3 linked regions of the Homo sapiens genome follow. The protein of the gene in region 2 purifies or fractionates together with the protein of the main gene of each other region. This does not show direct contact. Each region holds a gene or a part of one and is shown on either strand. Other genes may lie near its edges.

What was found.
Region 1: the proteins of CNRIP1 (region 2) and UTP4 purify together in Homo sapiens (affinity purification with mass spectrometry; 3 studies listed by BioGRID and IntAct, with this or other methods). This does not show direct contact.
Region 3: the proteins of CNRIP1 (region 2) and KCTD5 purify together in Homo sapiens (affinity purification with mass spectrometry; 2 studies listed by BioGRID and IntAct, with this or other methods). This does not show direct contact.

What each region holds. Positions count from the first base shown.
Region 1 is NC_000016.10:69,154,171-69,167,147, reverse strand, and holds part of UTP4 (U3 small nucleolar RNA-associated protein 4 homolog), read right to left. Parts: intron 12,756-12,977; coding exon 12,691-12,755; intron 11,278-12,690; coding exon 11,155-11,277; intron 10,065-11,154; coding exon 9,908-10,064; intron 6,793-9,907; coding exon 6,686-6,792; intron 4,066-6,685; coding exon 3,970-4,065; intron 1,808-3,969; coding exon 1,622-1,807; intron 74-1,621; coding exon 1-73. UniProt on the Homo sapiens protein: Ribosome biogenesis factor. Involved in nucleolar processing of pre-18S ribosomal RNA. Part of the small subunit (SSU) processome, first precursor of the small eukaryotic ribosomal subunit.
Region 2 is NC_000002.12:68,290,088-68,299,504, forward strand, and holds the end of CNRIP1 (CB1 cannabinoid receptor-interacting protein 1), read right to left. Parts: intron 3,940-9,417; coding exon 3,775-3,939; 3' UTR 2,923-3,774; downstream 1-2,922.
Region 3 is NC_000016.10:2,706,510-2,715,494, reverse strand, and holds the end of KCTD5 (BTB/POZ domain-containing protein KCTD5), read right to left. Parts: intron 8,198-8,985; coding exon 8,168-8,197; 3' UTR 6,465-8,167; downstream 1-6,464. Other genes in the region: PRSS27 (serine protease 27 isoform 1 precursor), read left to right, coding at 1,159-1,430, 1,797-1,966, 2,681-2,875. UniProt on the Homo sapiens protein: Its interaction with CUL3 suggests that it may act as a substrate adapter in some E3 ligase complex. Does not affect the function of Kv channel Kv2.1/KCNB1, Kv1.2/KCNA2, Kv4.2/KCND2 and Kv3.4/KCNC4.

The sequences.
Region 1 (12,977 bases), on a different chromosome or scaffold from region 2:
GCCTCCGGATGACATCTGATTCATTCGTGGGAGGAAATGGATTGTAGAGTAAGGTTTTGTCATTTGGAAGGGGCTAAAAAAACAAAGACACATTGTTTAAATGGTTACTTTTATTGGGCTTCTGCAGACCAAAGATCTGTAGTGCATTTTGAGCCCAACATCATCTTCTAACCATCATATATATTCAGTACCTCCCTGACATTCGTTAATTCGGGAAAACAGCTGTAGCCATAATACCTCTATTCAGAAAAACTAGGGGGGAAAAAAAGAAGAAAAGGAGAGAGAGGGAGAAAGAGCTGAAGCTACTCTTGCAGCCACACTGTAGAGGGTGGGTGTATGAGGCAAAGAGAGCTTGTTAACTCCATGCAGCAAGATCAAAGGGCCCTTCTGCGGCTTCTGGCCTGTCTCATCAGTATCACTTTGTCAGAATGGAACAAACTGGCAAGTGCAGGAGCTCAGCCCACACAGGGTCTGTGCTTTCTAGACTCTCCCCCAACCAGATCACAGACTGGACAAGTGACTGGAGTTCTCCCCAGGCGAAACCTCAACACAAACCACCTGTGCTGATGTCACTGACACCTCGAGGTGGCCTCTGGCCAAAGAAATGATATTTTGTCTCTGACTTCCTGGGAAATAGCTATGCCTACTGTAAGGAAGCGATGAACTTAAAGCCAATGCTTTGGAAAAAATGATCTGGGCTCAATTACAAAGAGGCAAGAGAGTGGGAGGGGCCCTTCCTGTATCACTCATCTTGCAGAAGGCACTTGTCAGCCAGCTCTGCTTCCCACACCCAGAGGTCGCAGGGCCCACGAGATGATTCCAGTGACACATCCCCGTGCACACCTCCTTTAGAGCCATCTGCTGCTTTCCCCCATGTTCCTTCCACCCCCACCTTCACAAACACACCAAAACACCGTGTGATGGTTGTAATCTAAGCCCAAAGTGCAGGACAGGCATGGCCACAATGCTCCTAGGAAACAAAGCACCTGCCCAGAAAAGCCATACAAATTCAGGGTGAATCAAAACAGCAGCTGGCAAAGAGGACAGAATCTAAAACTGAAGAAAATGCTCGTATCCCATGTAAATCACAGCCATGAAGAATTTTCCTAGCTGGGTTTTTCGAAGATGTTAAGACCAGTTCCTCAAGCCTGCAGACAGCGTTTTAGTAGCTTTAGCGAAGGGGCACAGAGGTCAAAACCTCAGCCTGTACCTCCTTTAATGAAACCAGGTTATTCAGATACCCCAGAGTTCAAAGTTGAAAGCAAGTTAGCCAAATCAATGATACTTCCGGATGAGGGTCACCTTCCGAATACTGGCCTAATCACTTTTCTGTGTAAGATTTATGTGCTTACTCGCAAAGTAGACAAATAGTCAAATCAGCAAAAGCCAGTATACAAAGGCCAGCCCCTTCCCCGAGAGCCTCCCGAAGAACTGTGGGAACACAAACCAGGGAATCTGTAAAACAAAAGCCCCTCTCCTCCAAGAAATGTACTAGCTACCTGTATTCTGATTTACTAGCTACCTTTATTCTGAGTCTCTGTCCTCTTACCTTATTGTACTTGTTGCTTTTAGAACTTTAAGATTCAGAAGAAGATTTGGGAGGTAGCAGTGAAGAACTCACCAATGACTTGTCAATGATGCAGAACATGTAGGCATCATGGAGAAGGATGTGCATCGGTCTCTTGGGATGAAAACTGATGTGTGTGATAGGAGTATCCCTTTGGAGCCAAAGGTGGTGAAAGCCCTGCTTCTGGACAGTCCGGCTCCAATCTGTATACTGTTTGTCTGGGATGCTGTACTCAAATACCTGAGGGAGGACATGACATAGAGAAATGCAGGCTGGTACTCAGAAAGACCAGAAGGGCATTCTCATCCCTAACCAGAAAGTATCTATACAAAGCTTCAACTGTATTATATTCATTCTATGCTCTCCCAACACTTTTTTTTTTTTTTGAGATGGAGTCTCACTCTGCCACACAGGCTGGAGTGTAGTGGCGTGATCTCCGCTCACTGCAAGCTCCGCCTCCCCGGTTCAAGCCGTTCTCCTGCCTCAGCCTCCCAAATAGCTGGGACTATAGGCGCCCACGAGTACGCCCGGCTAATTTTTTGTATTTTTAGTAGAGATGGGGTTTCACTGTGTTAGCCAGGATGGTCTTGATCTCCTGACCTCGTGATCTGCCCGCCTCAGCCTCCCAAAGTGCTGGGATTACAGGCGTGAGCCACCGCGCCCTGCCCATCTTTTCAGAGCTATTTTATGCACATAATACATAGCGTTCTGTATCTTGCTTTTGTTGCTCAGTGTTATATCACGGAGACTGACCCACATTAATACACATATATATCGGTCATGCCCATTCTGAAACACAGAATAGTCCACTCATTTTGTCCATGTATCATGATTTACTTATCCACTCTGCTTAATGGACATTAGCTTGTTTCATATCTTTGTCTACTACAAACAAAGCTGTCTCTGTATAAATGTCTTTTTGCACAGCTAGAAGCATATATATCTATATACAGATATATATATACATATATATATATATATATATATATATATAAAGAATGATTAGAACTGAAATTTCTAAGTCAAAGACCATGTGGACTTTAAAATTTTTAAGGTATTGCCAACATGTCCTCCAAAAGGGTTAGGATAATTTACACAATGTGTGAGAGTACTGTTTCCCTATACCTTCAGAACACTGTATATTATCAAGTCTTTGATCTTTGCTAATCTAACAGATATAAAAAACTTCCCATCAGTTTTACTTTCAGAAGCACTTAAGGGACTAAGTGCCAGTAAAAGGTGTCATGGGGGAAATTATCATTATGTGTGACAAAGGCAAAGATGTGTGGCTTCACTACTCTTTCAGTCTTTGGTCAAGGACTCAAATCTATAAAACTGAGAGATTTCACTTTTTGGACAGTGTGTGTGTGCATGTGTGAGTGTAAAAACTGACCATCAGCCGGGCGCGGTGGCTCAAGCCTGTAATCCCAGCACTTTGGGAGGCCGAGGCGGGCGGATCACAAGGTCAGGAGATCGAGACCATCCTGGCTAACATGGTGAAACTCCATCTCTACTAAAAATACAAAAAATTAGCCGGGCATGGTGGCGGGCGCCTGTAGTCCAGCTACTCGGGAGGCTGAGGCAGGAGGATGACATGAACCCGGAAGGCGGAGCTTGCAGTGATCGGAGATCGCACCACTGCACTCCAGCCTGGGCGACAGAGCGAGACTCTGTCTCAAAAAAAAAAAAAAAAAAACAAACTGACCATCAAAGCAGTAAGCATCATTTGCCTAGCACTCTACTTAAATGTGCTTCCTGGATTACATTTAATCTTCCCAACAGCTCAGTGAGGTAGATATTAACATCTCCAATTTTACAGATGAATTATTGATAACTTCCTAATATAATTATTGATAACTTCCTAATATATTCCGCAGCCCAGGTTTTTTTTTTTTTAAAGATCTCCTTATAATCACAATCTCCTTACAAATTGGTATAGAAAAAAGTAGATTAGGTTCTAATTTTGGCTGAGATTAGGTACCTGATCTTATTAGGGCTTGATTTCCTCATCGGCAAGCGTAAAGGTGAATGATACAATCTTTTAGTCACTTTCAACTCTCAAAATCTTATTCCATCCCATATCCAGTTTAATACCCAAGCCCATGTCATCTCTCCTCTAAAACAATCAGGAAAATGAGTACTTCAAAATTCCTCCTCCCTCTTGTGATTCTTTACTCTAGAATCTTAGTGCTTCTCCATTTAAATTGCATCCCATCAAACCAATGCATACTGCTGGCCTATGATGAGCCCAGACCGGCAAGGAAGCTTTACTTCACACAGGAGAAAACTACCTTATATCCTCCAACACCTTCAAAAAAAAGCTCCCCGCAACTGCCCAATATTCCAGCTTCTAGGTTACTATCCAGCAGGAAGGGAATAGAAAGCACTGGAATCTCCCTTACCTGCTGGTCCGAATGAGCGATGACAAGGTTGTTGGTATTGGGGGCAATAGCCATAGCAGTCACTGGGAAATTGTAAGCAGGCACCGTGCAGTGAAGCTGGGAACAAATAACAGACACAAGTGGCAACTCTAAGTGACACTTTTCCTCAGCAAAGATTGAATGGTCTAGGTCAGGGGTTTAAATACTGCTCCTCATAATTCAAAAGGGTTCTAGGGAAGTTCCAAAAATTTCAGGCATTTCCCCAACCAATGAACTTTCATTTCTTTTTCTTCTCTTTTTTTTTTTTTTGAGATGGAGTTTCGCTCTTGTCACCCAGGCTGGAGTGCAGTGGCGTGATAATCAGCTCACTGCAACCTCTGCCTCCCAGGTTCAAGTGATTCTCCTGCCTCAGCCTCCCAAGTAGCTGGGATTACAGGCGCCTACCACCACACCCGGCTAATTTTTTGTTTTTCTTTTTTTTTTTTTTTGAGATGGAGTTTCACTCTTTCTCCCAGGCTGGAGTGCAATGGCATGATCTTGACTCACTGCAACCTCCACCTTCCGGTTTCAAGTGATTCTCCTGCCTCAGCCTCCCGAGCAGCTGGGATTACAGGCACCCACCACCATGCCTGGCTAATTTTTGTATTTTTAGTAGAGACGGGGTTTCACCATGTTGGCCAGGCTGGTCTCAAACTCCTGACCTCAGGTGATCCACCCACCTTGGTCTCCCAAAGTGTTGGGATTATAGGCGTGAACCACTGCACCTGGCTTAATTTTTGTATTTTTAGTAGAAACGGGGTCTCACTATGTTGGCCGGGCTGGTTTTGAACTTCTGACCTCATGATCCACCCACCTCGGCCTCCCAAAGTGCTGGGATTACAGGCGTAAGCCACCGCACCAGTCCTCATTTTCTTAAAAAAATACCTATTGGTTGGCCGGGCGCAGTGGCTCATGCCTATAATCCCAGCACTTTGGGAGGCCAAGGCAGGCGGATCACGAGGTCAGGAGTTTGAGACCAGCCTGGCCAACATGGTGAAACCCCATCTCTACCAAAAATTAAAAAAATTAGCTGGGTGTGGTGGCGTGCACCTGTAATCCCAGCTACTCAGGAGGGTGAGGCAGGAGAATCACTTGAACCTAGGAGGCGGAGGTTGCAGTGAGCAGAGACTGCGCCACCACACTCCAGCCTGGGCAACAGTGCAAGACTCAATCTCAAAAAAAAAACAAAAGGCCTATTGGCTGGGCGCAGTGGCTCACACCTGTAACTACAGCACTTCGGAAGGGCCAGGGCGGGAGGAACGCTTGAGTCCAGGAGTTCAAGACCAGCCTGGGCAACACAGCAAAACCTCATCTCTACTAAAAAAAAAGATTAGCTAGGTGTGGTGGGACTCGCCTGTAGTCCCAGCTACTCAGGACACTGAGGTGGAAGGATCGCTTGAGCAGAGAGGTCAAGGCTGCAGTGAGCTGTGACTGTGCCACTGCACTCAGTCTGGGTGACAGAGTGAAACCCTGTCTCAAAAAAATAAAAAGCTTATTTAACCGCGTACAAAACTAACAGCGTTTGTGGAGAACTGAGAGTAAAGCCTTTCCCTCTGAGTAAATCCATCTGTACAAACTGCTTATAAATGTGTCATTGAATAGGGAGTCTACAGCTCTACACCAGGTTTAAAATAAATAAATGCCTAGGCATGGATTTTTATGTACAATTGCAAAGCATGTGCACGCTACACACAAACACTCTTTAAATGCCAGGCAAGGCTCAAAGACAAGTGCTCAGTACATGCTCCTACCATAATGCAACAAAGGTTACACTATGCAGTTAACAGGTAAACCCATTAAGTGTTGCAGTTTGATGTTATTCTATACACTTTTAATGCTTATTCCAAGTTTTGGGTAGTTCGAATCTGATTCTTATAATGAAGATGAGGACTTGTAAGGGATCACTAATGACTCAATTTATGACTGACAGCGTCATTACTGATTAGTGAAAAATGTTTTCCCAGTATTCCTTTTTCGAAGTTTTGATTATGTTTACCTTGAGATTACAAGGCAAGCCATGAAAGGAACTCTTATTATCTGCAACTATTTGTCTGTGTATATCAGAATTTTCCTCCCGAAAATACAGAAAGAACCTGGATGTGTTTACATCACCCACAGATCATTAATTTCAAATTTCCAGGTATGAATGGGTTTCACTGTTTCCATTAGCTGCTTTTAATGTTACACAGTATAGCTTCCGGGTTCCATAAAAATAAAACAGGATTCCAAACCTGGAAAAATTATTAGTTAAAAAGAAAAAAGTCTGGCCAGGCGCGGTGGCTCATGCCTGTAATCCTAGCACTTTGGGAGGCCGAGGTGGGCGGATTGCCTGAGCTCAGGAGTTCAAGGTCAGCCTGAGCAACACGGTGAAACCCTGTCTCTATTAAAATACAAAAATTAGCCAGGTGTGGAGGCACACACCTGTAATCCCAGCTACTCAGGAGGCTGAGACAGGAGAATCATTTGAACCCGGGAGGCTGAGGTTGCAGTGAGCCGAGATCGCGCCACTGCACTCTAGCCTGGGTGACAGAGTAAGACTTTGTCTCAAAAAAAAAAAAAAAAGAAAAGAAAAGAAAATAAAAAGAAAAAAGTCTAATAAATTTCCAGGTCATGCCAATCTGCCTTGAATCTTGTAACTGCAGGGTGAACTGGCTCCTGTACAATGATTCAAACTGCTGCCATGAAACCCTATGCTCACCTTTAGCTGTTTTACGTTGTAGACATGGACTCCAGCACTGGTACCTGATGCAGCTAGCCAATTCCCATCTGGACTGACTGCCAAAAGACACATGGCCTCCACTGTTCCTGTGAGGACAAAACAGTTACATCTCTGAATTCACACAGTGTCCACAGCCAGACCTGCCCTGGAGATGATGGCAAAAGCCAAGGAGACCATTAGAGTTTTAAATCACTGCCAGGATAATTTGCTGATCACTGTGCAAATTACTTCTAGATGTTAATGTTTCTACTTTTTTCATCTACTTATTTAACCATCCCGCCTGTAAAGAAGGTCCAGAGAGATAAAACAGAAGTTATTACTTCCTCAGGCCTAAGACACTGCTTACTACAGGAATAGAGAATGACGGCAGCATCTGCCACTAAAATATATACTTTAATTGTTTCAAACTCCTTTCCTACCAAATGGTTTTTTTTCTGTTTTTTGTTTTTTTTTTTTTGAGATGGAGTCTAGCTCTGTCACTCGGGCTGGAGTGCAGTGGCGGATCCGCTCACTCCAACCTCCAACTCCCAAATTCAAGTGATTCACCCGCCTCAGCCTCCTGACTAGCTGGGATTACAGGCACCCACCACCATGCCTGGCTAATTTTTGTATTTTTAGTAGAGATGGGGTTTCACCATGTTGGCTGGGCTGGTCTTGAACTCCTGACCTCAGATGATCCGCCCACCTTGGCCTCCCAAAGTGCTGGGATTACAGGCGTGAGCCACCGTGCCTGGCCTCTTTCTTTTTTCTTTTTTTAGACGGAGTCTCACTCTGTTGTCAGGCTGGAGTGCAGTGGTGCAATCTCGGCTCACTGCAACCTCTGCCTCTCGGGTTCAAGCCATTCTCCTGCCTCAGCCTCCCAAGTAGCTGGGACTACAGGCGTGCACCACCACACCCAGCTAATTTTTGTATATTTAGTAGAGATGGGGTTTCACCATTTTGGTCAGCATGGTCTCGATCTCTTGACCTTATGATCTGCCCACCTCGGCCTCCAAAAGTGCTGGGAGGTGTGAGCCACTGTGCCCGGCCCCTAAATTTTTTTTAAGCCAAAATTATGGACAGGCCAGGCGTGGTAGCTCACACCTGTAATCCCAGCACTTTGGGAGGCAGAGGTAGGTGGATTACCTGAGGTCAGGAGTTCAAGACCAGCCTGGCCAAGATGGTGAAACCCCATCTCTACTAAGAGTACAAAAAAAAAATAGCTGGGCGTGGTTGTGGGTGCCTGTAATCCCAGCTACTAGGGAGGCTGAGGCAGGAGAATCACTTGAACCTGGGAGGCAAAGGTTGCAGTGAGCCGAGATGGCACCAATGCACTCCAGCCTGGGCACAAGAAACTCTGTCTTTTGAAATTCTATCTCAAAAATAAATAAATTAATAATAAAAAAAAAAGTTACGGACAAACAGCAAGTTCAATAGACTTGAAGCATATCTTTAATTTATTGGATGCCTGCTGTGTATTTAGCACTAAGGGAGGATGGGCACGTCTGAGCCATCTTTGTCATCTAGAGACTTTAAACCAATCTGGCAACACGACAACTAGTGTGGGATAAAAATTGGACAGTGATGCTCTATGCCAAAATGCGTGCTGCATGTAACGCCCCCAAACGATAACATGGCTTTATAACAAGCATAACCCAGCTGCCAAAGGATGGGTGGGGATGAGGAAAAAAGGATGGGGAACAGTGCAAGCTAAGTGACGAGGAGTAGAATATGCAGGTTTGAGAGCTGTGAAGAAACCATTTTGACTACAAGGGGAAGTGAGATGAGAGAAGTGGAAAAAATAAAGTCATATACATAATGTAGAGTCGAATCTCAAGGAGAGCTAGATATAAGATAAATAGCCTAAGTTTTGTAATAAAAACATATATAGATAATAAATAGTTTGATTTATCTGACCCCTAACTTGTGGGTTTCTTCTCCTGTAGGCTTCTGGATCAGCTTATGAACAGTGAGAGTTGAAGATAAAAGAGTTGACTTTCACTAGGCATGGTGACTCACACCTGTAATCCTAGCACTTTGGGAGGCTGAGGCAGGAGGATTGCTTCAGCCCAGGAGTTTAAGACCAGGATGGGCAACATGGTGAAACCCTGTCTCTACAAAAATACAAAACTTAGCTGGGTGTGGTGGTATGCTCCTGTGTACTTGGGAGGCTGAGGTGGAAGGATTTTCTGAGCCTGGGGAGGGTGAGGCTGCAGTGAGCCATGATCGCACCACTGCACTCCAGCCTCGGCAACAGAGTGAGGCCATCTCAAAAAAAAAAAAAAAAAAAAAAAAAAAAAAGAGTTGACTTTCCAGGCTGATGGGAGTGTAAATGACAGTGAAGCAGCAGCTAAAATCCAGGACAAGGGAGAGGTGAAAGGCCCATAGGAAGTATCAAAACAACTACCAGCTTAATCTGGAAACTGAGTCCAAGTCCTTAACAGTTAGCCATAGCTAGCTACATAGCCACACTCATTCATTAATACTCACATTCTCAATGAAAACAGAAAAATTCTCAGGAACATTATATGAACACAGGTAATTAAACTGTATGTATAAGAATACTTTTGGGCCAGGCACAGTGGCTCATGCCTATAATCTCAGCTGGGAGGGCAGGATGGGAGGATCACTTGACCCCAGGAGTTCAAGACCAACTTTGTCAACATAATGAGACCCCGTCTCTACAAAAAAAATGAAAAAATTAGCTGGGCATAGTGGTGAGTGTCTATAGTCCCAGCTACTCAGGATGCTGAGATGGGAAGATAACTTGAGCCCAAGAGGTCGAGGTGGCAGCCATCTATGATTGTACCTTTTTATGAACAAACAACCAAAAAAGGCAACATGCCCACAAAATACTTATATACAAATACATATTAGAAAATACCAAAATATTAATGGTAGCTATTTCTGGGTGTCAGGATTGCAAATGACTTTAACTTTCTTCTTGTTCTGCTAACAAACTAAGGATGATGAAATTTCTCTGGCCCCAAATAAGGAATCAAAAACCCAGTGAGAAAAGAGTAGGTGTGAAGAACATTGCAGATCTCATCGAGAGTCTTCATCTGCCAGCTATCTCCTCCTACTTGAAACAGCAAACATGTGAGTGAGTGTATCTGCAGGGTAGGAGGAACATGAGGGAACCCCCGACATGGAGGCTTAAAAGCAAAAAAGTTACATCTTAGACACGACAAGTCTCCCCATGGCCAGTTACCAGATTCCCACCTGACTGAGGCTGGAAAGCATGCAGGTGCTTGAAGCTTCCTCCTGACAGCTGAACAATATGCAGAGCTCCTTGATTTGATGCTACAAAGAGCTTTGTTGAATCTTCAGAAAACAAAATCTGAAGGGCAGAGCGAAGGAATGCTGGCATTTTGGAAACCTTTGGGTGAACCAATAATAAAAGCCAGTGAGAGAAGGGAGACCTACAGCCCATCAGAAACAATCACAGCTAGGCTTAAGGTACATTAATGCTTCCTGTCTCTAAGTAAGCCAACTGACTCGGCACAGAACACTGGTTTCTCTCCAGTAATCTATACATCCCCCTTTCATCTCTTTACTAAATATTCACTTCTCTATCAAGGAAATAACTAAGTCGCACGTGAAACCACTAAACAGAAAAGCTTTAATTTTATTGCCTGTAGGGCATTACCCTATCCCTCTAAGAACATACCTCAAAATTTCAAAATGGAAATAAAGGCTGGGTGTGGGCCGGGCGCAGTGTCTCATGCCTGTGATCCCAGCACTTTGGGAGGCTGAGGGGGTGGATCACCTGAGGTCAGGAGTTCAGGACAGCCTGGCCAACGTGGTGAAACCCCATCTCTACTAAAAATACAAAAAGTAGCCAGGCCTGGTGGTGGGCACCTGTAATCCCAGCTACTCGGGAGGCTGAGGCAGGAGAATGGCTTGAACCCGAGAGGCAGAGATTGCGGTGAGCTGAGGTGGTGCCATTGCACTCCAGCCTGGGTGACAAGAGTGAAACTCGGTCAAAAAAAAAAAAAAGGCTGGGTGCGGTGGCTCACGCCTGTAATGCCAGCACCCAGCACTTTGGGAGGCTGAGGCGGGTGAATCACTTGAGGTCAGGAGTTCAGGACCAGCATGGCCAACGGGTGGTGAAACTCCATCTCTACTAAAAATACAAAAATCAGCCAGGTGTGGTGGTGGGTGCTTGTAATCCCAGGTACTCGGGAGACTGAAGCACAGGAATCGCTTGAACCCAAGAGGCGGAGGTTGCAGTGGGCCAAGACTGTGCCATTGCACTACAGCCTGGGTGACAAGAGCAAAACTCCGTCTCAAAAAAAAAAAAAAAAAGAAAGAAAGAAATAAAACACTGTTTCATAACAGCCTTCTCCAAATCTCCAAATAGTTTTTAACTGAGCAAGGATTCACATCCAGTTGATTTCCACTTCACACAAAAATGACATATTTAGGAAGTTTCCTCTTATGTGACCAGATATTGGACTATCACTTACCCTTTTGAGGCTTATGTTGTCATGTTCATAATTCAGCCGATAGAGAAAAAACCGAGAAACTGTAGAATAGGCTATCCAACTTCCACATGGGGAGATACAGCTACAGATAATGTTCTCAGGACCCTGGCAATATCAGGAATCAAGATGAATGTGCAATTAAACTTCACATAACAAGGTGCACTGGGACATGACGCCTCAAGCTCTTGCCACTCTGGACATACCCACAGATATCTACACATAATCTCGATCCTCGTGTGGTCTGCATTAATATGATTATTTCAGAGGCAGAGCACCTAAAAGGCATGGCTTTGATTTCCAAATCCAAGAATGGAGGTCTATTCTTATTTTGGCCCTTTGAATACTTCATAGATAGCCTCATACTAGACCCCAACTTCAGAAACCTGAGCAGGGAGGCATTTACTGAAGGAAAGCTCTGGAGGATAGGTGGTTTGAAGTACTTATTTTCTGTTTTGTGTACGGCGTTCTGCTTTAAAGACTTCTAAGAAATAGCAAATGAAGAACATTTGAAGGCCAGGTACAGTGGGTCATGCCTGTAATCCCAGCACTTTGGGAGGCTGAGGTGGAGGATTGCTTGAGCCCAGGAGTTCAAGACCTGTCTGGACAACATGGTGAAACCCTGACTCTACAAAAAATTAGCCGGGCATGGTGGTGCACACCTGTAGTCCCAGCTACCTGGGAGGGTGAAGTGGTAGGATCACCTGAGCCTGGGAGGTTGAGGCTGCAGTGAGCCGTGACCGTGCCACTGCTCTCCAGCCTGGATAACACAATGAGACCCTGCCTCAAAAAAGTAAGCAAACAAACAAAAAAACCAACCAACTAACCAAACAAAAAAGAATCTGGAGAATAAAGAAAAGTTGAATGTAACATGTATGTAGTTTTTAAAAACTCACAAAATGATTTTTTTTTCATTGTATACCCTTTTGTACTATTTGAGTTTTTAAAAATATGCACATGGCTGGGCGCGGTGGCTCACGCCTATAATCCCAGCACTTTGGGAGGCCAAGGCGGGCGGATCACCTGAGGTCGGGAGTTCAAGACCAGCCTGACCAACCCCATCTCTACTAAAAATACAAAAAATTAGCCGGGCGTGGTGGCGCATGCATGTAATCCCAGCTACTTGGGGGGCTAAAGCAGGAGAATCGCTTGAACCCAGGAGGCGGAGGTTTCGGTGAGCTGAGGTGGTGCCATTGCACTCCAGCTTGGGCAACAAGAGTGAAACTCCGTCTCAAAAATAAATAAATAAATAAATAAATAAATAAATAAATAAAAGCACATTATTTTCATAATAATATCAAAAGAAGAGAAACCTATTTCCTGTATACATCCATCTAATAAATCCTCAACGTCCTACTTATAATCACAGGAAACCCAGTCCTGGTGACACAGTCCTTCATTCAAATAGTTTTAGAATTTATACAATTTATGATGCAAACTAAGTAACCTCAAAATTCAGAATGGGAATTATGAGCCTAGAATTCAGGCTCTAGAATTCAGAGCCTAAACAAACTTCCTTACCTTTGTCTTTAGGTGCAGTAAATGATCTGCATTTTTAGAGAGTGGAAGAGTATCCCCATTCTTGCCTGAAACAAGAAACTTCCCTGAGATTTTTCTTATGAAAGAAAGAGTATTTGTACATTTTTCTTCTAAAAAGTTACTCCTTGGAAAAATGGAATCTCTATCAGTGGGAAATCAGAAAAATACAAGCTCACTGAGTAAGCTCACAATTTTTGAGGGGTATATGAAGAGAAAGCAGTGAGTACTTCTTTTGCTTCTATCCTCTGATACATCACTAATTCCCTGAA
Region 2 (9,417 bases):
GCATGATCCCGGCTCACTGCAACCTCCTCCTCCTGGGTTCAAGTGATTCTCCTTCCTCAGCCTCCCAAGTAGCTGGGATTACAGGCGTGCACCACCATGCTGGGTAAATTTTACATTTTTAGTAGAGACGGGGTTTTGCCATGTTGGCCAGGCTGGTCTTGAACTCCTGACCTGAAGTGATCTACTCGCTTCAGCTTCCCAAAGTGCTGGGATTACAGGCGTGAGCCACTGCGCTTGGTGGAGAATCTGAGCTTTTAAACACTGAACCATGATACATTACTGATGATAATGGGCCCTCTTTCTAAATGAATCAGGAATATCATTAGGCTTATCAATTTTTATTTGATATATACAGAAACTACTGTGGTTTAATACAGGATTATTTATGTACCTACAGGATACAGTTGTCCCCATCTACTGTTCTTTTGATTTACTTTGTCTGCTTTTTATAGTTTTCTCTGTCCTCTCTGAAAAAAAAAGAATATTTTCAGTATATCTGCCTCTACAAATTGTCTTCTTCCCTTTCATGTTCTACTTCCAATTTCATAAGAGTCAGAAACCAGATCACCCCACATGTTAGAATTGTGTCTAAAACAGGAGTCAAGAGGCCTTGGGAGAAGACCCGAGCCTTTAGTGAATGGACTTGGTGACATCTGTGACAGGGATCTTTATTTTTTGGCATGTTTTCTGTTCTTAACTGTGATCCAGATAGTTTAAATGGCTGGATAAGTGACTTCTCAGTAAGCGAGGTGTCACAAAATATAAACTCAAGGCATTTCTATTCTTCCACCTGTTCAAAAGTGTTTTAGTCATCATCATAATTGGAAGGATGGCCTAGTTCCTCAAGCTTCTGGGTAGCCATCTGATGCTTGGAGGTAGAGAGACGTGGCTACAACTTGTATAAAAATAGCCCTTCCAGATGGCTGAGGGGCAAAGTTACAACTCAGCAGCTCGATATAGCTGAGCACTCAAATTTTGGAGTAGGAGGAGAGCTATGTGAGAAGTAGCCAGAGAGACTGGGCTGGAGCCCAATCATAAGTAGAACAGTATATGCCAGGAGCGATCACTTAACGTGCAGATTAGCTGTTAAGTTTTTCTGTTACTTCATCTCCATCTCCTCCCCAACTCCCTTGATTCAACCTTACTTCTGGCCCTAAGGAAACACATACACATACGACATAGACAGATATGCACACACACTTTCCCCTTTTTTTTTTAAAGGAGTATAAAATAGAGGAACAAACCATAACTCTTAAAAGGCTTCAGAATTCTACTAGTCTAACCCTTCATTTTAGAGATAAGCAAACTGAGGCAGAGAAAGGTGTGGTGACCATCCAGGATGTGAGCAGGACTCCCACGCTCCAGGTGCTCTGCCAGGGCTCATCTTCTGGCTCGTTTGTGGGACACTGATAACAGCGCAGCTATCCCAGGACATGTTTCCTCCAAGTCTGCTTTGACTCATTTCAAACTCTAAATAAAGCCTTTAGTTAAAAAAGAAAAAAAAAAGTATGGGCCCAGCGTAGTGGCTCACGCCTGTAATCCCAGCCCTTTGGGAGGCCAAGGCAGGTAGATCACGAGGTCAGGAGTTTGAGAACAGCTTGACCAACATGGTGAAACCCCATCTCTACTAAAAATATAAAAATTAGCTGAGCGTGGTAGCACACGCCCGTAATCCCAGCTACTCAGGAGGCTGAGGCAGGAGAATTGCTTGAACCTGGGAGGTGGAGGTTGCAGTGAGACAAGATCATGCCACTGCACTCCAGTCTGGGTGACAGAGTGAGACTCCATCTCAAAAAAAAAAAAAAAAAAAAAGAGTGGATTATTGCAAAAGTCATGATAATGTCTCCACCCTCAACACAAATACTCAAGCTCTAGTCCCTGGCTTGAAAACCTGTTTCACCAGTGAAAATATTTACTAATCAAATTAGTAAATATTAAATTGTGTAGTTCCCACTTTTTATTTTAAATCTTTTATTCACTCTGCATTTCTATTGGATATTCTGGAAGAAAAACCTCTGTAGTAAATCCATTGTTTTAAATATCTCAATGTCTGTTCAAATAATTGAGTGTTGGTTTTAAAAAATAGTCATTAGGAATGGGTTAGTACTTACGTTTTAGCAATTGTAATGAAGACTTTAAAAAAAAACAAAAAAACAAACAAAAAACACAAGCTTATTGAGAAACATGTTACACTCCTTTAACATCATTTATGATCCCCAAAGGCAAGGCATTGCTGTTCCCTGGTGGCTGTACAGCATCACTGCAGGTAAGCGATTTGGAGGTAGAAAAGGTGTTGAGTGCCAGCCTTTCAAATTCAGTTCTACAATGAATCAACTTTTAAAAATACTCCCAGTAGCTTGCATTTTCTTATAAGAAGGGTTTACAGGTAGCAAAAACAAACAATCCCCAACGAACTTTTTCCAATACTATAGGATTTGTGCTGCCCAAGTAAATATTACATTATTGGAAAATAGCATGTTACTTTTCAAGAGGAAGTTCACTTCCTTCTTATGGAATTTATCCTTAAACTGTATGGTATATGGGCTTTGTGCAAGGTGCTGGAAGTAGGCAAGGAGGCCTCAACCATGATGTACACACACTATTATAGCACCATTGCTCTCCTGCTACTGAGTCACATAGCTCACCAACTGGGGAGGGGTCACCACAGAAAGAGTAATGGAGCGAGATAGGTACAAGCATTTTTTGATTGCCCGCCAAGCACCTGGGCCTGTGCTAGCCCTGTTAAACTTGGCTGGAGCAATCCTGCTAAAAGGTCAGGCTTGATTCATGAATAGGTGTGCTAATTCTACTCCGGATACATCCCCGTCATCCTGTAGCATACAGGCCTGAGTGAAGCTGGCCTAGAGCAGGGATTCACCTGCTAGATAATTATTGCCCAAATTAAGAATGCAAGTCAGGGCATGATTTTCAACGCCTTTATTAAGAAATATCAAAAGTTGATTACAGGTCCATATGCAGTTTTACAAAGTTCAAGTGAAGAAGACTGTAGGGATGCCATCAATGTGCGTGTCTGAAGACTATGGAAGCTTGTCAAAGGGGTAACCCTACAACTCCTGTCACTTTAACAATGGTCCACAGCAATGCTTTTCCCCCATTTCTACTAGGCTAGGCCATTGCACAATACCTTAAGCTACTTAAAAGAGTTTTAATACGTTATAAATACGTACATATTTGTCCTTCTAGTTTGTTACCATCCTTCCCTGAAAGAGCGGAGCTGTTTATAGGAAGCACAACATTTGAGTCCCATTCACTGCTGTTTGTATTACATTTTCACAAAGCCTGCTTTGAAAGCTGGCAAACACTGCAAGTTACATGTTACCATATTACACATGGGAGGACCCATACACATTGTTATTTTTAAATTTAACATTGAACAAAAAAAAGGAGGAATCACTTAACTTGGAAACAAAACACCAAAGTTAGTCAGTGGAATGGTCAAGAGCAGGACAAGCCTGCCAGGGCCACTGAACTCCAGTCACAAGTGGTCAAAAGTATGACCGAGAACAACTGGATGCAGGAACATCAGCACAAAATACAGATGGGAATATTCTCGGGAGTGGTACATCACCATCTTGTATGTGAGGGATATTGTGTCAGAGGGGAATTACACTTTCAAAATAACCAGGGCTAGTAGGTCATTAGTACCAGATGGGGAACAGCAATGGTGTGGCATGCCTTGTTTAAGGCCTGCGCTGGTTTATCTAAAAGTAGATTTCTGAAAAGATTGTCCAGTAGCATCAGAAAGAGCCACTTTCAGAGGAAGGACTCCTTGTTCACCCACATCAGACTGCGTGTCTCGTTGGGCTTGCATTCATACTCAATGACAGAGAAGGGGCTTCCCCACTGGCAGTGATCCCGCTTGTGGTAATTGTAGAACTTGACTTGCCACACTGTCTCGAAGGTCCCAATGTCTGTGAACTGAGGGAAGAGAAACATGCCTGATAAAAAACCTCATTCTGCCACGAGCAATAGATGAGAGCTAACATTAGTGATGTAGCTCCTGGATAATCAAGCAGACCCAGTCCAGATTCTCTTGGTCTGCAAGGCTCGGAAGGCTTTCCTTTAGTGGTCTAGCTCCCTCCTTTATGATGGGAGATATTTTCCTAAAAAGCTGTCTGTAAACCATTCTTCTCTATAAAATCTGATTCCCATTGCAAACGTGCCACTCGCTATCATATTGCTTTTAATAAAAATAACTGCAAAGTTTATCTTGTTTTTCAAGTTTAATTTTTTGAAAACTTAGAATTTTAAAGCTTACTCTAAAATGGCCCCTGCTGGCCAGGTGCAGTGGTTCACCCCTGTAATCCCAGGCTGAGGCAGGATGCTAGCTTGAAGCCAGGGGTTCCAGAATAGCCTGAACAACAAAGCAAGATTCTGTCTCTAAAACAAACCCCCATGTTCATCCCCCAAATGGTCCCTGCTACAGAAGGGGAATGGCGAAGGGAAGAGAAGGAATAAAGTTTACTGGCTTTTCTCAAAATACAATGGTACAAAACAACCTGTCTACAATACATCTACATAAAATTTCCATCATTAGTTTCAATTCCAAAGAAAAATATTTCAAAGTGATAACTGAAAATATTTCATTGGAAGTGTTAAAGGCCATATTTTAACTATTAAACATTGAATACTTATAAGTCAGGAGTCCATGCCTACATCTTGGGCTTAGATTATACATTACCCAGAACCATATTTGAGTATCTGCTATGTACCTTGCATGTATAAAAATTCGTATAAGGCAGGATTGTTGCTCTTAAGAAGTTAGCATTCTACTTCCAGAAGGTAGGCCCTGTAAATCACTGCACAGAACTCTCCTGAGGTATAAAGTACACATTTCTCTTGCAGCTGAGAAGAGTACCTGGAATACCCTGGAGGCCACTGGGCAGATGCTCAAGTGGCCTGTGGGGTAGCCTGACCCTGCTACTGCCTTCTGGAGCTATTTAGGGGATCTGGCATTAAACTGCATGATGCCTGTCGTTATTTTCTCCTCTGACCCTCCCCTGTCATGGGAGGGGACAGGGACTGACTTGGCAGGACTCTTAGACTTGTCTGGAGCCAGAAGACGTGGACAGAGGAAGGCAGTGAGCATTAGGAGTCTTATGCTTCTTGCTGATACAGGAGGAGGGTGATCAGGTGCTTTCCAGATAGCTTTCCAAGATGCTCTCAAAATTATATCTTGCACCATTGCCTCATCCTGCTAATTTGATCCCAAAACAAGATCTAGGCTTTCCTCTGGGAAATTTGCTTGATTTGAAATAGTGGATGATATACCTAGAGTCCACAGACCTCCCAGGTATGAAAGTGGATTACCTCTTTTTAGAGAGTCATGGCTTAAAGACCTATATAAGCATACAGCAGCTTTATTCACAATAGCCCCAGGTTGGAATTGACCCAAATGTTTATTCACATGTTGATAAGCAAGTTTTGGTATATTTATAAAATGGCCTTTTGCTGAACAATAAAGGAAGACATGCTGATTCAAGCAGCAACAGGGATGGATCTCAAAGACATGCTAAGCAAAATAATCTAGGCCCCCAAAGTACATGCTGTATGAATCCATCTATATAGTGACAGAATGTAACCTACACTGACAGGAAACATCTGTGGTTATCTAGAGCCTAGGGTGAGAAGGGGAACTGATGCAAATGTGCAAGAGGGAACTTTTTAGGGGTGATGGAAGCATTCTGTATCTTGATTGGGATGGTGGTTACATGGCTGTACATATATGTTGGTCAAAACTAATTGAACTGTATGCTTAAGATGAGTCCATTTATTACATGTAAACTATACCTCAAAGTTAAGAAAAATAGAAATATCCATTTTTAGTGAGCTATAAGAAAACAGGTATTCTAAATGCTGCTAATGGGAATTGAATTAGCCTTTTGGAAGGATCATTTGCATGAAGTTAAAGGTGTGAGTACATTCAGGCCCAGCAATTCCATTTATAATTTATCTTAAGAACATCACAAAGTTTAGAGTAGTAAACAATGCAACACTAAAGGTCCATCTTTAAGGCACTATTTGTGGCATATCTATATAATGGAATACCATGTAATATTTTTAAATGTAAAGTATTTAATACAGTTTTTATTTTATATTGTTACATGAACTAAGCAGAATACCATGAAGAACATGAAGTATTAATTCAGTTAAAATTAAACTTGGCTAGGTGCAGCAGCTCACACCTGTAATTCCAGCACTTTGGAAGGCCAAGATGAGAGGATCGCTTGAGACCAGGAGTTTGAGACTAGCCTGGGCAACATAGTGAGACCCTGCCTCTACAAAAAATGTTTGAAAATTAGCTGGGTGTGGTGGCACACACTGTGAGACTGAGATAGGAGGATTGCTTGAGCCCAGGAGTTTGAGGCTGCAGTGAGCTATAATCATGCTACTGCATTCCAGCCTGGGCAATAAAGACCCTGTCTCAAAAAAAAAATGTATGTGTATATATGTGTATGTGTGTGTGTGTGTGTATTTAATGTTAGAAATCCTGATGGACTGTTTTATTTTCTCCTATGTTCTTTTTTTAATTTTTATTATATTTTTGAGATGGAGTCTAGCTCTGTCGCCCAAGGTTGGAGTGCAGCAGCACGATCTCGGCTCACTGCAACCTCTGCTGCCCGGGTTCAAGCAATTCTCCTGCCTCAGCCTCCTGAGTAGCTGGGATTACAGGTGTGTGCCACTACGCCTGGCTAATTTTTTTTGTATTTTTAGTAGAGACGGGGTTTCACCATGTTGGCCAGTCTGGTCTTGAACTCCTGACCTCGTGATCCACCCACCTCGGCCTCCCAAAGTGCTGGCGTGAGCCACCACACCCGGCCCAACTTCTATATTTTTTAGCAGAGACGCGGTTTAACCATGTTGCCCAGGCTGGTCTTGAACTCCTGACCTCAAGTGATCCACCAGCCTCGGCCTCTCAAAGCGCTGGGATTACAGGCATGAACCACTGCACCTAGCAGATTTTCTTCTATATTCTTATTTGTATTTTCAAAATTTAACGATTACTTTACCAGAAAAAAAATTAAACCAAAACTGTATTTCCCAAAAGTATTACCAAATAGTCATTATCCTTAATATAAAGGACCATATGCATTATTAGTAAGTACTACGAGGAACATTGGAATAAAAAATTGGAATGGTTCATTAAAAACAAAACAAAACAAAGCAAAAACCATAGGCTGGGCGCAGTGGCTCATGCCTGTAATGCCAGCACTTTGGGAGGCCAACATAGTAGTACCACTTGAACCCAGAAGTTTAAGACCAGCTTAGACAACATGGTGAAACCCTGTCACTACAAAAAATTAAAAACATTAGCTGGGCATGGGAGTGTGTGTCTGTAGTCCCAGATACTCAGGAGGCTGAGGTGAAAGGATCGCTTGAGCTCAGGAGGCAGAGGTTGCAGTGAGCTGAGATCTTGCCACTGCATTTTAGCCTGGGCAACAGGGCAAGACACTGTCTCAAAAAAAAAAAAAAAAAAAAAAAAAAAAAAAAGGAAAAAATGACTAACACCTGCAAAAATATTCAAATGTAATTAGTAATTAAAGAAATATAAACTTTTAAAGAGATACTATTCCTCTAACAACTTAGTGACAATTTCTGAGTGCCAGAAACAATCTAAGCATCCAACATTAGGAAAATATGAAAATGGTGGCATATCCATATGATAAACTTACAGAGCAATTAGGAATTTAGGGTTGTCGATGATTCAAGGAAATGCTTAGAACAATGTTTAAAGGAAGATGAATTGGAATGGTTTATATACATTATGAGCTCAAATATGTAAAATAAGATGTATAGAAAAAATGAAAAATATTACCTTCTAAGTAAAGAAATTGAATTTTTCTATCCTTACTCAGATTTTTTCTACAATAAATGTTACTTTTAAAATCAGAAATTTTTTAAATGGTGAAATGGATTTATCATCTTACAATAATATATACAGCCTGCAAGCCTAAGGGATTTTATAAATTCTATTAAAAATATGTACATTCTAATGAAATTATGACTTTGTTCACAATAGGTTAGTGGTGGTATGTATAAATCAAAATCTCATTTTATAATTTACCAAGACTTTTAAAGAGGATTTAGTATTATTTTTGACCAGCACAAGGCATTGCACACTTTAAGTGCAACTGAATTTTACAATTCAATTAACATTTTAATTCCAAATTATAAAAATATTTTGTAATAAAATATACACTGAAATATAAACTTTATACTAAAAATATTTTATAATACTTTTCAAATGCCAGCTAATATTTTGAAGGAAGCAGCTTAAAATCATGCTAGGTAACAGAGAAACAACACTGAGATTTTTATTTTTTGAAATAAAAGTTGGTTATAAAAATAAAAAGCCCACCAAGCTGATTACAACCAGACAAGAAAAACGTAAGGCTTATGTCTAAAAAAATTTTCAAAAGTCTCAATCTAAGAATTCTCAGTAACAAAGGAGACCAAAGTTAAAATCTGCCAATAGCAACAGTCATAGCTAAAGATATATTTAAGTGTTCATATTAATATTTCAAATTTGGTTTATTAATGTGGGACCTAAGGTCACGTTGAAGTAAATGTAACTGCTGGTAACTATGCATATGTCTTCCTCTCCCCGATGCCTTAGCTGTTTATACTTCTCATTAGCCGTCTTCCTATTCTTTCTTTTGGAGCTCTATTTCCTGGGCCTCTTACTACCTAGCTCATAATTTCTTCTTGTCTGGCTAGAAACAGATGGGGTCTTGAAAGCTGACATTCTTCTTAAAGAACAGGAACAATTATACAGGCTCTTCACTCCCTCCCCGCCCATCTGTCCCTTCTAAGGAGAATGTACCCAGGCAGGCTCCTGGGTGGTACAATTTATGCACAGGTATAATTCTGTATATTTGTATAGCACCCTATTTTATGTGATACTTTCACATACATCATTCCACTTTAGTCTTGTGCCTGGTTTTATTATCTCCAGTTTATGGACAAAAAAACTAAGATTCAGAGAGGTTAGATGATTTGCCCTCAGTCTAGACTCCAAAGCCAGCCAATGATAGGAGCAGGACAAGAACCTAGGTCTCCTAATTCCTAGCTTAGGAGCTATTTATCACTGTACAAAACTGCTGATATAAATGGTTATAGTGGACAGTTTTTTTTTCTCCCTGAATGAGAAATTACATGAGTTGTCACAGGTAGAATGCTTTAGGGCATTGCTATGGACTGAATGTTTATGCCCTCCTCCAACCCCAATTCATGTGGTGAAGCCTAAATCCTAACTGTAATGGTATTTGGAGGTAGGGCCTTTGGGAAGTATGAGGGTCATGAGGGTGGAGCCCACATGAATGGGTTCAGTGCCCTCATAAGGTACATGAGAAAGATGATCTCTTCTTCTGCCGTATGAGGATACATCAAGAAAGT
Region 3 (8,985 bases), on a different chromosome or scaffold from region 2:
CCCCGACCCCCTCCATCCCCTCCACCCACTCACCCACTCCCTGTGGGTCCCTGCAGAAGCGGCCCGGCAGGCTCTGCCCACCGGCCCCTCCTGGCCTTTCCCCATCCCGCACACACCTCAGCTCCAGGACACTCTTCCCGGGAGGAACTCTGCTCACAAAGCCCAAGGACCAGACAGAACGGCCCTTCCTCCCCTCACCCACCTGAACCACCCCAGAAAGCCCTGAGCAGAGGCCAGGCCACCCAGCCCTCTGCCATGTATGAACCACCTGGTCCCACACCTTCCGGGTGTCCCAGGCCCCCTCACCTCACACCTCAACACCGCAGCTCTAATTATTTTAAACCCCACATCTTTTTCTTTTTTTTCTTCTTGATCTTTAAAAGAATATCATGACAAAAAAAACCCCACATCTTAAATTCAGATACTCACGGCCAGGCACGGTGGCTCACACCCGTAATCCCAGCACTTTGGGAGGCCAAGGCGGGCAGATCAGTTGAGCCCAGGAGTTCAAGACCAGCCCGGGCAACACAGCAAGACCCTGTCTCTACTAAAAATAAAAAAAAATTAAAAAACAAAAAACAAACAAACAAAAAAACCCCAGGTGCAGTGGTGCCTGTGGTCCCAAGTACTCAGGAAGCTGAGGCGAGAGGATGGCTTGAGCCCAGGAGTTGGAGGCTGCAGTGAGCTACAGTTGCACTGCTGCACTCCAGCCTGGGTGACAGAATGAGAACTCTGTCTCTAGGGGAAAAAAAAAATCGGAAACTCGGGCTGAGAGAGGGCAGGTCACCTGCCAGAGGCCCGCAGGTGGGGCTGGCCCTGCTGCACCTGGAGGGTGGTTCTCTCCGAGCCAGCCTTTCAGGTAGGCACTGTGACTGTCCCCACAGCACAGGTGAGAAAGCTGCATCACAGAGAACTTGTTAAGTGACTTGCCCAAGGCCACACAGCGGCCAGGGGTGGAGGTGGAAATCTGAGTCGGGCGGTCTGGCTTCAATGTCAACACGCATCACCGCTGCACCTGGCTGTCCTAGAGATGACTCTCGAAGACATTGTGCAGAGAGAGGTGTGGGGCACGGTGGTGGCCAGAGGAGCCCCAGCCCCTCCCGGGCCTGTCCCCACACGAGGGGCCGCCTCACGCCGCCTCTCTGTTTCTCCCGCCAGCACCTCTGAGACGTCCCTGTACCAGGTCCTGCTGGGGGCAAGGCAGCTAGTGCAGCCGGGACCACACGCTATGTATGCCCGGGTGAGGCAGGTGGAGAGCAACCCCCTGTACCAGGGCACGGCCTCCAGCGCTGACGTGGCCCTGGTGGAGCTGGAGGCACCAGTGCCCTTCACCAATTACATCCTCCCCGTGTGCCTGCCTGACCCCTCGGTGATCTTTGAGACGGGCATGAACTGCTGGGTCACTGGCTGGGGCAGCCCCAGTGAGGAAGGTAAGGGGACAGGGCTGGGAAAGAATGGGGGATATGCCTCAAGAAGGCCCAGGACGGCTTGGGGACCACTCTGAACCCACAATCTTCCTGTTGCTATATTAATACATACACACGGTCTCTGTTCACACAGGTGGGGCCGAGGGGAGCAGCAGCAGACCCAGAAGGAAGAGGGGGTGAAGGGAGAGGGGGACAGAAAGGGCCCAGCCTGCTGCCTGGAAGGAGGGAGGATGTCTGCCCCACAGTGCCCTAAGCCAGAGATGGTCTAAACATGAGGAAACGACAGGCAGGATGGAGTGGTGGTTCCCGGGGCCGTGGGTTCTTGATGAGGAAGTCCGTTGAGCCCTGGGCTGTTCCGCCCCTCTCCAGACCTCCTGCCCGAACCGCGGATCCTGCAGAAACTCGCTGTGCCCATCATCGACACACCCAAGTGCAACCTGCTCTACAGCAAAGACACCGAGTTTGGCTACCAACCCAAAACCATCAAGAATGACATGCTGTGCGCCGGCTTCGAGGAGGGCAAGAAGGATGCCTGCAAGGTGGGAGCAATGTGGTGTCCATGGGGACTCAGTCCCCACCGCCAGGCCCAGGGCAGGGTGGGATCATGCCCCGCTCCATGGGCTATGCATTCAACCAGCTGAGCAGCTTGTTTTGAAAAGGCAGATTCCAGGGCCGGGTGTGGTGGCTCACGCCTGTAATCCCAGCACTTTGGGAGGCCAAGGAGGGTGGATCACAAGGTCAGGAGATGGAGACCATCCTGGCTAACACAGTGAAACCCCATCTCTACTAAAAATACAAAAAATTAGCCAGGCGTGGTGGTGGGCGCCTGTAGTCCCAGCTACTTGGGAGGCTGAGGCAGGAGAATGGCGCGAACCTGGGAGGCGGAGCTTGCAGTGAGCCGAGATCGCGCCAGTGCACTCCAGCCTGGGCCACAGAGCAAGACTCCGTCTCAATAAAAAAAAAAAAGAAAAAGCAGATTCCTGGACCCCACCCCAGAAGGATCAGAGTCAGTGGGTCTGGGGTGGGGCACAAGAAACTGCATTTTCAACACACACACACACCCTAGTTGATCTGGGGACACTAAAGAATAGGCACTTTAGACAATCGGACTGGCAGGGGATGGGGAGCCGGGCAGAGAGGCTCTGGGATGGAGAGAAGGAATCCATTGCGGAGCTACACACCTCCTGTGCGGCTGCAACTGAGTCTCTGGGAACTCAAGGTGGGCTCTGACGGTGACTCTGCGTCCCCCGCAGGGCGACTCGGGCGGCCCCCTGGTGTGCCTCGTGGGTCAGTCGTGGCTGCAGGCGGGGGTGATCAGCTGGGGTGAGGGCTGTGCCCGCCAGAACCGCCCAGGTGTCTACATCCGTGTCACCGCCCACCACAACTGGATCCATCGGATCATCCCCAAACTGCAGTTCCAGCCAGCGAGGTTGGGCGGCCAGAAGTGAGACCCCCGGGGCCAGGAGCCCCTTGAGCAGAGCTCTGCACCCAGCCTGCCCGCCCACACCATCCTGCTGGTCCTCCCAGCGCTGCTGTTGCACCTGTGAGCCCCACCAGACTCATTTGTAAATAGCGCTCCTTCCTCCCCTCTCAAATACCCTTATTTTATTTATGTTTCTCCCAATAAAAACCCAGCCTGTGTGCCAGCTGCCCACGTGGGGATCCTTGGGGGACCCCGGCGGGTGAGGAGCTGTGAGTTGCAGGATGAAGCCCAGGTGGGAGATGCGGAGTGCTCTGGTCATCTCTGAATCAGCAGAAGGGAGCTGCAGCTGGTGCCCGAGGCGAGGACAGCACCAGAGTATGGGACCCCTGTCACGGGCCCCGCACAGGAGGCCACCTGCTGCCACCTGTGCCTCTGTTCTCTCACCTTAAAGGCCGCCCCAGGGTTGGCACTGGGGACAGCGACGGACACAGGTGGAAAGAGCCTCAGGGCCATGCAGGAGCTGTGCCGGGGCGAGAGGAGGGCATGGAGGGACTGGCTGGGCGGGGGCACCTCAGCCTCCCAAGCCTGCACTTCCGGCTGCCCGTGTCTCGGGGCCACCCAACTTTTCTAAACCACTTCGGCAGGAGTGGGTGCCCACACCTGTGCTTTCCTGCTCCACTGCTCCTGGCACCCTTCGTCTCCCTGTGCCCCGGCGTCTCCCCTTGACCCTTGGCTCCTCTTCCTCCGCCCCATCCCTCAGTCTCCACCCCCATGCAGGAGTCCAGAGCAGTGCGTGGTGGCAAGGGGATTAGGCTGGACATGCACATCACACCCACACGCACCCGTGCACACACACACAGGCACCGTGGCCTGTACAGCGGCAGGAAGAAATCAGGCCCTGAGTGTCCACCAAGGAATCAAACCAACACCCACTCAGCAAGCAGCTGCTGGGGACACCGTGGGGAGCAAAACAGAAGGAATTCCCCGCTGGGCCCGACCCATCTCCCCAACGGCTGCCCAGTGGCCCCCGTGGGCCATTTCTTGCACTCCTCCAGCCCAGGGGTGGGTGGGCAGGTCTGGGGGGCCTGTGCGCACAGCCCCATGGGGGAGCAGATGCACGAAGCCCAGGTGGAGGGAGAGGCAGGCCCAGGGAGCAGCACTGGGTGGTCCTAGCCAAGCAGGGACTGGCCAGGCCTCCCAGCCTCGGAGAGCCCTGGGTGAACCTGCACCCTGCTCTGGGCTGTGCAAGGAGCCCCAGGCCCCCGTGGTCAGAGGGGAGGCTACAGGTTAGATGGTCTAGGGAGGGCAGCCCCTGCTGTCTTTGTGCTGAGACCCCACCCAGACCCAGGATGTCAACAGGCAGATGCCCGTGGGAGAGGAGCAGAAAACACTCTCTACAGAGACTAGGGGTTGAGAAGGGAAAACAGGGCTATTTCATGCAATTAACAGCTCCCACGAAGCATGCCGTGAGAAGGACGTTAGGAAGGGAATAGTCCAGGTTGCCACAGGTCCCTTTTCCATCCTGGGGCGGGGGTGCAGCTCAGACTTTGCACGCTGCTGCCAAGCAGGGCTCTGAGCCATCTGCCAGGTGGGCGGCAGCAGGGCCCCTGCCAGCTCCAGGAGGGACTCGAGGGAGAGCCTGGCACAGGCCCGCGCACATTCTGTGGCTCACAGGGAGGTAGGCAGAGCGGGCGGCAGCCTTCATCCCCAGGCTCAGCTGGCCCATGTGCACACATACACACACCATTCCCATGCCACTCACAGGCACACACAACACATGCATGTCACATGCCACACACAGGCACACACCACATACCAAGCACACACCACATGCCACACATCACATACAGCACACATGTGCATGCCACACACACCATGTGCACACAGGCACACACCACACCCACACCATGTACAGCCAGTAGGTACACACACACACACACACACACACACACACACACACACACACACAGAGCAGGAGCGGGAGCCCCAGGAAAGAAGTCTGTGGGCTCCATTCGGGCCAGAACTGCGGTGAGGGGTCAGCCACAGGCCAGGCCTCCCTGTGCCGAGCCCCAGGCCTGGGAACACTGGGGAGGAAGAGGTGGTCTGAGGGCAAAGTGACCCATCTTGGGGGGCACGGCTCAGTGCAGAGGTGCCGGAAGTCATCGTCCCTCACACAGATGCCACGTCAGGGCCTTGGTGGCTGCACTGTGGGGTCAGCTCTTCATCGCCCCAGCCGGCCACTGCCACGAGCTTTAGGAGGAAGGAGGGTGCTAGAAGTCCCTGCTGAGTGGACACCAATAAATGCAGGGATGTCAAGGAGGGTGGTGCCAGCCGCTGGAGGGCTCCAGTCATGGGCTCTACAGGAAGCCTGGGGAGGACGGGCACCCACGCAGGGCACCTGCATGTGCCCCGCCCCTGCCTCCTCTTCTGCCCCCACGCTGGCTTCCTGGAGCCACAGGGCTGGGCCCCAGTCCCCACAGCGGGCGGGCTGTGCTGGAGCCCAAGGTCTGAGGAGGAACAGGGCTCCCTCCCTGCCCAGCAGACCCAGCGGCCCTGAGCATCCTCGGCTTCAGGACCCAAACTGCAGGGCCTGTCTCCTTTACAGCCTTTTGCTTGGATGGGAAACCTGCTCCGGGCTTTGGCTGGGGACGCCTGCCACGCTGAGGCTTCTCCCAAGTGCCCACAACTCTACCTGGTCAAGGGGCTGTAAGGCCTAGCCAGGCTCCTGGTGGGAGTCGGGCAGCGGGAAGACCCCTTGGAGCAGAAACTGGGTCTCTCCCCTACTCCAAGCCCCGTGCCGGCCTCATGCTGGGCACCCAGAAGCCCAGTCACCCACTCCACCCCTCACCAGGGCCCTGGGGTCAGGCTGGGCCAGCCACACACCTGGAAACAGGATGGACAAGGCCACTACAGCCTGAGGCTCTGTGACCTCAGACAGCCAGGCCCTGGGGGACACCGTGAATGGGAATCTCCCTGCGGGGGGGCGGGGAGTCCAACAGCCAAGGCTTCGTGGAGCAGCCACCAGGAGGAGTCACAGCAGCTGGCGAGGGGGTGCCGGGACCCCAGGACCTTCTCGGGAAGCTCCTGCTGTCACAACCCAGGCTGCAGGCTAAAGTGAGGGAAGAGAGGTGGATGCTAACTTGAGGTATCAGGACTTTCAAAAAAACATCACTTGAGCCGCGCGCAATGGCTCACGCCTGTAATCCCAACTGCTCAGGAGGCTGAGGCAGGAGGATCACTTGAGCCCAGCAGTTCAAGACCAGCCTGGGCAACATAGCAAGACCCCTGTCTCTTAAGGAAAAAAAAAGGCCCTTGTACATGGTCTCCGGTCTCCCGGGATGGGGGTATGCTATCTGCTGGAGGTAGGTGAGGGGTCCAGGCAGAGTGGGGTGCAGGGATGGGCCGTGCAGCTCTGATCCAGTGACCCTGGCCAAGCCGGCACCCCGTGGATGGCCCAGCTCCGCCCTGGCCATCGACTGAGAGGCAGAGGCAGAGCCCTGAGTGAGCCGCCGCGGCCAGTGGGGCTGGGCGGCTTGGAGGGGCAGCACCTTGGTCCGAGCGACCCGGGGTGGCATTCCCCTGCATCTTAAGACCATAAACAGCTACTACGCGCATTCATAAATACACAATTTTATTTGCTATTTCCAGGGGAAACTTAGGCATTAAACTGTAAGCTGATAAAATACGATACCTAAAAAAGTATAAAAGTATAAATATCCCCTTAGAATAAATTTTAGTGAATTAAGTCTTAATATCTTTAAATTAAAAAAACCACAAGCCTATCTACTATGTCAAGGTCAAAAATCAAACAACGCTAAGCGGCCAGCAGCTCCCCAGAGAGGATGCCCAGGAGCCCCAGCGGCCGCCTTCCTCCCAGGCTCTGCTGGGGCTAAGTCTGCCTTCTAGAAAGGCTTTTATAAATTGTTTAAGCCAAACATTTAACAACATACAAGAGACCTTACAAAAAGAAGGAGGTAAGTCCTAATGCTGGAGAATTGGTTAATCAGGTGACTGGCAAAGAGGAGGATGAGGCCTAGGCAGGAAGTCTCCAGAAGCATTGGAAACCAGACAGTGTCAGAGCCTCTGACCTGCAGGCGGGAGGCCGGTGGTCAGTCTGCACAGTACCCCTTGGGAAGCCGGAGTTCCGGAAGCAAAGCGCTTGGAGCCCGCCCTGCACGCCGAGTCCCCAGACTCTGACAGGTCCCCACAGCCAGCTGAGAAAGGTCTGTTTTCAAAGCATGCGGGCAGCGGTTTCTAAAGGAATCCCAGCAGCTCCCACGGCATGTCGGGCAGAGCCCGTGCAGGTCGAGTGAAGTCCCAAACATCCCAGAAAGAGAGGGAAGGCTGCATAGTTATACAAAGAAAATGAGAGAGCGGCGAGAGAGAGGCATTTGTGATGCTCTGTAAACATCCCGAATTTTCACCGTGACGCAGACCTTCAGCTCCAGAAGCCAGTGGACAGGCCTCCAGCCCAACCTCTATGCCAGGCGTGACAAGGCACTGACAGACGCCAGCTCCCCGTGAGCCCGCAGTGGGAGGGGCGAGGCGACACTGCTACCTCGCGCTAACGGATGGAACAGATCAGTCTCCACGCGGCAAGCCCTGTGGGCATTTCCAGAGGAAAAACGCTGGGGAGTCTATCCACACAGAGAAGGGGTACAAAGTTCTCTTGCCTGGAAAATACAAATTGAGAAGCCTTGACTGTCCCGGGCTTGGTCAGGTGGGGTTGGAGCCCGTGTCAGAAGAAGGCCCGGCCTCGGAATGGCGCCGGGAAGCAGTGACGACGCAGAAGCCGCCTTTGTCAGGAGCTCTGCGAGGTCGAGAGAAACCAGCGATCCCGCCTGGGAGGCAGAGCAGACTCCCTGACCGAGACTAGGGCCTGGTGGTCGGACCAGAGGCCACGACGTGCTGGACACTGACGCGGCTGCGGCCGCTTCCTGCCAGTGAAGCCCAGGCTGCTTTTCCAGACTGTGTGTAGCACCAAGAACGCTTCCTTCACACGATCTTCAGGATCGAGCGGGCTGACTGGGAGTGTCTGCCTCAGTCCCACGTGGCACTTGGAAAAAACAGAGCGAGGCCCCCCCAAGAGGCAGCGCCCACCCGGCCGCCGTGCTCCCCCAACTTGGGGACGTCTGGCCTTGGACAGCTGGGCCCGTCTCTCACCACCCACCTCAGAGGCAAAAAAGGATTCACACCCAGATCTCTAGAAAAATGATCAAAAGCAGGTTTCTTCTCACAGCCAAGCTTCCTGGACATGGCAGTTCATTACATCTCGGGAAAACGTAAATCATTTCTTCAGCTGTCAATACTGTGTCCCTCACATCCTTGAGCCTCGTTCTTGCAAAATCTGAAAAACACCAAATGCATAAAATGAGGACTTGGGCTGAGGAGGTGTCCCTGACCAGGCGCCTGCTCCAGAAAACAGAGCCCACAGGCCTGGGGTTAGCTCGGGGAGCCCCGGGAACCCAGCGGCACTGGCCAGGGTCTTGGGGACTCAGCTGGCAGGCCCAGGACCTTCACCGGGGTGTCTGGCACATCTCCAGGCCCCACACAGGGAGCGCTCACTGTGCATGGCAGCCCCTCCCAGACCCACCCAAAGGCGCTGACTCTTGGGCCTCTCAGCCCACTCAGTCCTGGGCCTCAGACATGAAGCGCAACTCGGCCCGCGGGTCCCTCAGCAGTCCAGTCCCCCCTCCCCAATTAAGTCTCTCCCTCTGTTCCTCCATGCCCACTGCAGCCCCCACCCCCACCCCGACGCCCGGACCCTCCTGGAGATGCCCCTCACCCAAGCCCTCGGCCCTGCACCTCAGCCTGGCCAGCCCACCTCATGTGCTGGCCCCTCCCGACTGCCCCATGGAACAACCACCAGCCCTCAGAGGGCCCTACCCCAAGTGCAGATCACGCTGCGGGGATCCCCTCCTCATCTGTACCACGTCAGCCCTGCAGAGCCCACGGCCCCTCGGCCCCCTGCCCTCCCCACCCTCCAATCTCCTCAAAACTCTTCCTCAAGGTACCCTCCCCACTTCCCTCACCAGTGTCCAGGAACCCCCTGAGGCCACCCCCAAGTCGGCCTGGGCTCCCCTGAGGACAGGCTCAGGCGCTGGCCAATGCTGCTGAGGTGAACTCCCAAAATGA